Linked DNA regions of Homo sapiens: region 1 is linked to region 2. A link means that fine-mapping ties the variant in region 2 to the expression of a gene that starts in the linked region. Tissue or cell type: spleen. Region 2 holds a variant in brackets; the other region holds the start of a gene. All regions are shown on one strand. Distances are from middle to middle.

Region 1 (2,920 bases), 32 kb before region 2:
ATTATTTGTCAGTGGTCGACTTGGGTTTTTTTCTATGTTATATAGCTCTGTGTTTTCTAAATATTCAGTCAGAAGCAGATATTTTTCTTATCATTACATGTTTAAATTATGGTGGAGAATTTTCAGCAAATATTAAAATAAGGAACTCCTTGGGAGGCCGAGGCGGGCGGATCATGAGGTCAGGAGTTTGAGACCAGCCTGGCCAATATGGTGAAACCCCGTCTCTACTAAAAATACAAAAATTAGCCAGGCGTAGTGGTGGGTGCCTGTAGTCCCAGCTACTTGAGAGGCTGAGGCGGGAGAACTGCTTGAACCCAATAGGCGGAGGCTGCAGTGAGCCGAGATCGCGCCACTGCACTCCAGCCTGGGCGACAGAGCGAGACTCCATCTCAAAAAGAAAAAAAAAAGGAACTCCTGAGTTATCCCCAGTCCTCCTTGGGTCACTCTGTCCAGCTTCTGATTCCTCTGCTTATTTTAGCTGCAGGCTTTATGAGATCTCCCTAGTATTTGGTACCTCATTCCTGGACTAAGTGGTCAAACGTGTGTAATGGGGCAAAAGGCCTTAGGATGTTGAATAATCGCTGAGCAGGTGGTAAACCTGTGACACTGATGTGATGGATGTAGGAGTGGTCTCCTTGCAGCCCTGGAGCCTTTCATCAGAGTAGGATTTCACCCATCTGAGCTGGCAACAAGCCCTGTTATTCCCAGGACATCTAGAATTCATCAATCGTGCCTGGATTGTTTATTCACTTCACTCATGCTCCTGAATTCTTTGTAGCAGAGTCATTTCCTGTTTAATTCTCTCCAAAGTTTCCCCCTTTGGCCCAGGACTGAAAATTATCTGTTCTACAGTGCATAAAATATTTTTCACAAAGGTAAGCCGTTAGTTATGTATTAGTCTGTTCTGGAAAAAAAAAGTCAAAATAGTTGAGACCTACAGTTAGTCCATGTGATCTGGAAGTGACCAATAGTCATCACAGGGGGTGCACTTACCTAAATCGAATCCGTGTGTATCATTTTCTGCGTTGGTAAGTAGATCCACGTTTTCCTTTGGGAGGCTCACTTTAATATCCTTCTGCTTCTTTAAGATTGGGAAACCACCCAGGCCTCCCAGCTCTTGGCAAGCAACACTCTGACTTCATGTTGTTACTCAGCATTTTGTTCCTTATTGAAATGCCTGGCTCTGCACAACTGGTTTGTAAAGTCTGAAGATCCCCTGGCCATGCCCAGAAACAGCAGCCTCAGGAAGACAGAACTGAAAAGAACACACAGTGAGAACGAGAAGGGCTTTACAGCTCCGGTCAGCCTGACTCAAACCTGTGTTAATAGCCCAGACTCTTGTTGCTCCATCCAGACCTTCCTCTCTCTTCTAGTCACAATCCTACACACCCTTCTAGTAGGAACTCAAAAGCCACCTCACTCAGCCTAAAGTAATCTATCCCTCTTCTGTGTTTCTTATAATACTTTTATTTACTTTGTCTTACAAATTTTCCTTGTATCATACTTACTTATGTATGTATGTCTTCCTACGAGGTTGTAAGTGTTCAGGAAAATTAGAATGATCCAGTTTAGCTTGTACACTTCTCCTTGAGCACAATGCCTTGTACTTATTAAATAAAAATGCTTGAATTGCATGGAATTGAATCAAAATCTAAGAAAATAATCTGCTTTAGAATAGATCTGAGAATGCTGAGTAATGCACAACTCCTGCCTTCTTTGGGGGGACCTGAAACCTTAGGGGGACTTCAATTACTTCTGGATTTGGTATAGCTTCAGCAAAGGCAAGATTTCCCAGGGTTGCTATGGCCTACAGGAATATCAGCCTCCATTGGTCTTAGTGTCTGGCTTTAAATGGTAATGGAATCACACTGATTTTTTATGTTCGTATAGTAACATCATAAAGATACTGAAAATACTGGCAGTATGAAAGGAGAAAAGCAAATTCATTTCTTTTTTGAAAGATAAATCTCATTCATAAGGGATTAAACTTTTATTGTAGATAAGGTGAAATTTGGTAAGTTAAAATGAGAAGAATTTCAAAATGCTTTGTTGGGTGAAAAAAACCTTCTAAAGTAGTATGTTTATTATGATTCTTTTTTTGGTAAAAACAAATTTAAAAAGATAACTTCTATATAAAGTATATGTATACACGCCTGGGGAAAGCATTTGGAAAATTATACAGGCATTAATTTCTCCTACAGTTAAAGTGTCCCTAACAAAAATTGGACATAGCACAATTAGCTGCTTATTGAACATAATTTAATGAATCACTGTTAGTAATAACCAGAACTGACTGGGAACTGGGAAATGATAAAAAGCTGCTGCTTCCCCTGGCTGTAATGGACTGTACTGCAGGCAGACCTGCATGGCAACAGTGATGAGGCATTAGACGGTGCTGAATACGTGGCGGAAAGTGTAAGGAAGTTTGTGTTTCCTTTTGTAGGTTTTGATCTACCTTTTTAAAATTAAAGCTAGCAATAACCAAATACATTTATGGTTATGAAAACAAATTTATTGTTAAAATTACTATTTTTAAAATTCTGTTCTACTGTGAGTTTTAACATTTCTGTTCCCATTAAAACATTTTTTTTTAAAAAAGTTAGTTTTAAATTGCAATTTGGCTTAATTTTAATAGGAGATACACTTTTAAAGGACAAAATCTAAAAGGCACATGCTAGTATTTCTAAATGAGAAATTTTTGTTCCATCCCTATTCCCCAGCCATCCTTCTCCAATTTCAACCAGTGTTACCTGTTTCTTTACATTCTTTTGATAAGTTGAGATTTCTTAGAAATGCACCTATTTTGCAACAGTAGAATAGGCTATATACTAAAATACTAACTGTAGTTATTTTCAAACAACAGGATAATAGGAAATATTTATCTCTTTATAGTTTTCTGGATTATTTTTTTCCCCAGTAA
Region 2 (2,920 bases):
TTTTAACCACTGTGCAATACAACTTTAACAGTCTTTAACTGAACACCTAGTAATTGGCAGTTGCTTCAAATATCTTATCCTTTAACTCTGCAAGTTGCAAAGAGTGTGAGAATTTTGTGTGGAAGCCACATTTGCTTAATCCCCAAACCCACCCACCGCTATCACCACTATGCTGTCCTTGCCAATTAGCCAAGTATCTGTCTTTCCTCTCCTTTGCTTATTCCCCAGATCGTCAACTCCTTGAAGTCAGGAAATGTGTAGCTTTCTTCACTTTTATAACTCCAACACCTGGCGTAGTTTCTGGACTACAGTTACCATGTAATAAATGTTGGAAGAATAAAGGTTGGAAGGAGTTTGGTTTGACTGATAAAAACCAAGAAAAATATTTTTCATGAAGTTATCAGATGTCAAATTCTATTTAACACCGGTTTAAATAGAATTTGCAGACATGATCTGGAACTTTCTTTGTGGACTTGGCTCTCTGACACAAAACAAAACAAAAAATTTAAATGCAACTTTGGAAATCTCTAAACTCTTCTGAGGTCTGTGGCCAGGGGCACCAATGCAAGCCAGTTACGCTGTGGATTGCTGCAGTTCTCTAAAAGGAGGGGTGAATTTGGGCTAATTCTCACCAACTCCCTACCCTTGTGACCTTTGTTCTTCTCTACTTTCTACCCCACTGTGGCATGCTCTTTTTCGTAGGAGCTGATTTTATCCCAATGTTCTTTTTCAAAACTTCCTTTTATCTGGTGGTTGATATTGTAGCAATTGGCAAATCACATCTGTCGCTTCACAGCAAGTCTGATGCTCTGCCAGGTCACCTTGGACCACTATGTTTTTTTTTGAGATAGAGTTTCACTCTTGTCACCCAGGCTGGAATGCAATGGCACCATCTCGGCTCACTGCAACCTCTTTCTCCCATGTTCAAGCGAATTCTCCTGCCTCAGCCTCCTGAGTAGCTGGGATTACAGGCATCTGCCACCACGCCCAGCTAATTTTTTTGTACTTTTAGTAGAGACAGGGTTTCACCATGTTGGCCAGGCTGGTCTCAAACTCCTGACCTCAGGTGATCTGCCTTCCTCGGTTTTCCAGAGTGTTGGGATTACAGGGGTGAGCCACCACGCCTGGCCTGGACCACTATTTATTGCCACATCCAGTTCCACAAAGTTTATGCCCAAAGAGGTCACATGTACATTTTGATAGCTAGTTTTTTCTTATGCATGGTTGTGTCATAAAACCTTTCAGCTGAATGGGCTGCTCTGGTATTCTGGGTTTGGGATTTCTTTTAACAGTTTACTGCAGCAGCCATTCAATGTTACCTCCTACTCTGTAACCCTCCTCCTCATTTGAAATTCTCCTCTCTCTCACTGTTGACTTTGTAAACTCTACAGAAATAGGCAAACTTTGGTTTCAGAGGAGGGCTGGCCCTGGTGGGTAAAACTGGCACAAAGCTGAGTTTGATGAAACTGAAAGAAATATAGCACCAGTAAAAAGGCTTCAGCACACAGCAACCTGTACTTGCTTGACTCTCACAGTCCCACGGGAGACATACAGAGTGGGTGGGAAAGATCTGAGTTTGTCAGTTTGCTGGGGGTGGGGTTGA[A/C]AAAAAATTTGGGGTACTTTCCGTGGCTCATAAAACACAAGGTTTCACAGGCAGGAAATTGCCAAGAAGTTTGCTTTATCTTCTTTCCTAATTGCAAACTAGAAGAGGTAGCTTTACAACATCTCAAAATCCCCCAAGTGATTAGAGCACTGTATAAGCAATTGTAAGTCTTCCAAACTGAGCCAGAGAATAATGGCTAATGTTTATTGAGCACTTAACGGGTGCAGGCACTGTGGTAAGTGCATCACCTAATCTGGCTTATTGAAACCTCACGCCTACTCTGAATGATACTTGCATGGCCATCCTGGCTTTACAGGTGAGGAAACTAAGGTACAGAAAGAGTAAGCGACTCACTCCCTCACATGTCATACTACTGTCAACTGATGGGCAGGAAATAAGACTAGGAAACTTTCTTCAGATCCTGTAACCTCATCACTGAGGTGAACACAGTTGGCTCTTATCGTTGGAGGACACACTGACAACATATTAATAACACTGATTTCAGCTGACAGTTCTCTGAAGCTTCCAAGGCCTCAGAGTTACTGTCGCTGAGTAGTACTAAAACAAGTATCGCTTATTTATTCTACAAATGCTTGTTGAACACTTACTATCTGCTCTTCACTGGCAACTCACCATGCCAATGCAGTTATTGGTAACTAATTTTTATTGAGTTAAATTTTTCACATGCTTTATTTCATTTCATCCTTGCACATATTTAAGGTAGGTGCTGTTATTGTCAGCTAAAGAATTGAGTTGTATGGAGGTTAAGTATTTGTCGAGCACTGTTATCTACGCTGCTGCCATAAGTGGTGAAGCCAGGATTTGAACCCAGTTTGATATGACCCCAAAATTATTGTTTTAAAGACAAAGTAAAACTGTGGGTTATCCATATGGCATGAAATTGGGGAAATGGAAATAGGGGAAGGTACATGGAAGAAATGTCTGAACTACTGTACACTATTTTAAAAATTTCCTCAATACATTCTTACAAATAGGCTAGAGAATCTCCTATTCAACATCCTCATTTGCCATTTTTGCAGCTCCTGATTTATAGACCAAACATTCTGTTACTGTAGCGTGAAGTGTACAAACCTTCTGCTTCTGCAGCTCACCAACCACAGAGCCCAGGACTCTCTGCAGCTGGCTATTTTTCTCTTCTTTCAATCTTCAGGGACTAAACTTAGGGCTTAATGAGATGACATGAATGCACTCAATTCTGCAGGTGATCCATGTCAGAGCTAATGCACATTCATGTAAATGAAGATGGTCCTGGGAATCCAGAGAAGCCAGATGATTAAATTAAATGTTCCACATGTT

Alleles and levels. Alleles are on the strand shown, and positions count from the first base shown. SD is a standard deviation of normalised expression in the study named.
For the expression in spleen of the gene that starts at base 1,263 in region 1, C is the low allele of the variant in region 2 and A is the other (moderate effect, 0.56 SD a copy in GTEx).

What was found.
Region 1: LINC01094 starts here. The variant in region 2 is fine-mapped to the expression of LINC01094 in spleen (GTEx, PIP 0.90).

The regions. Positions count from the first base shown.
Region 1 is chr4:78,644,337-78,647,256 of GRCh38, reverse strand. It overlaps LINC01094 (long intergenic non-protein coding RNA 1094), which reads right to left and starts at 1,263. Exons shown (of 3, transcript NR_038308.1): 1 at 994-1,263. RefSeq lists an enhancer at 427-1,626.
Region 2 is chr4:78,612,764-78,615,683 of GRCh38, reverse strand. LOC124900721 (a long non-coding RNA gene) reads right to left here and starts at 891. Exons shown (of 2, transcript XR_007058152.1): 1 at 1-891. The variant A/C (reference allele first, on the strand shown) is at 1,604.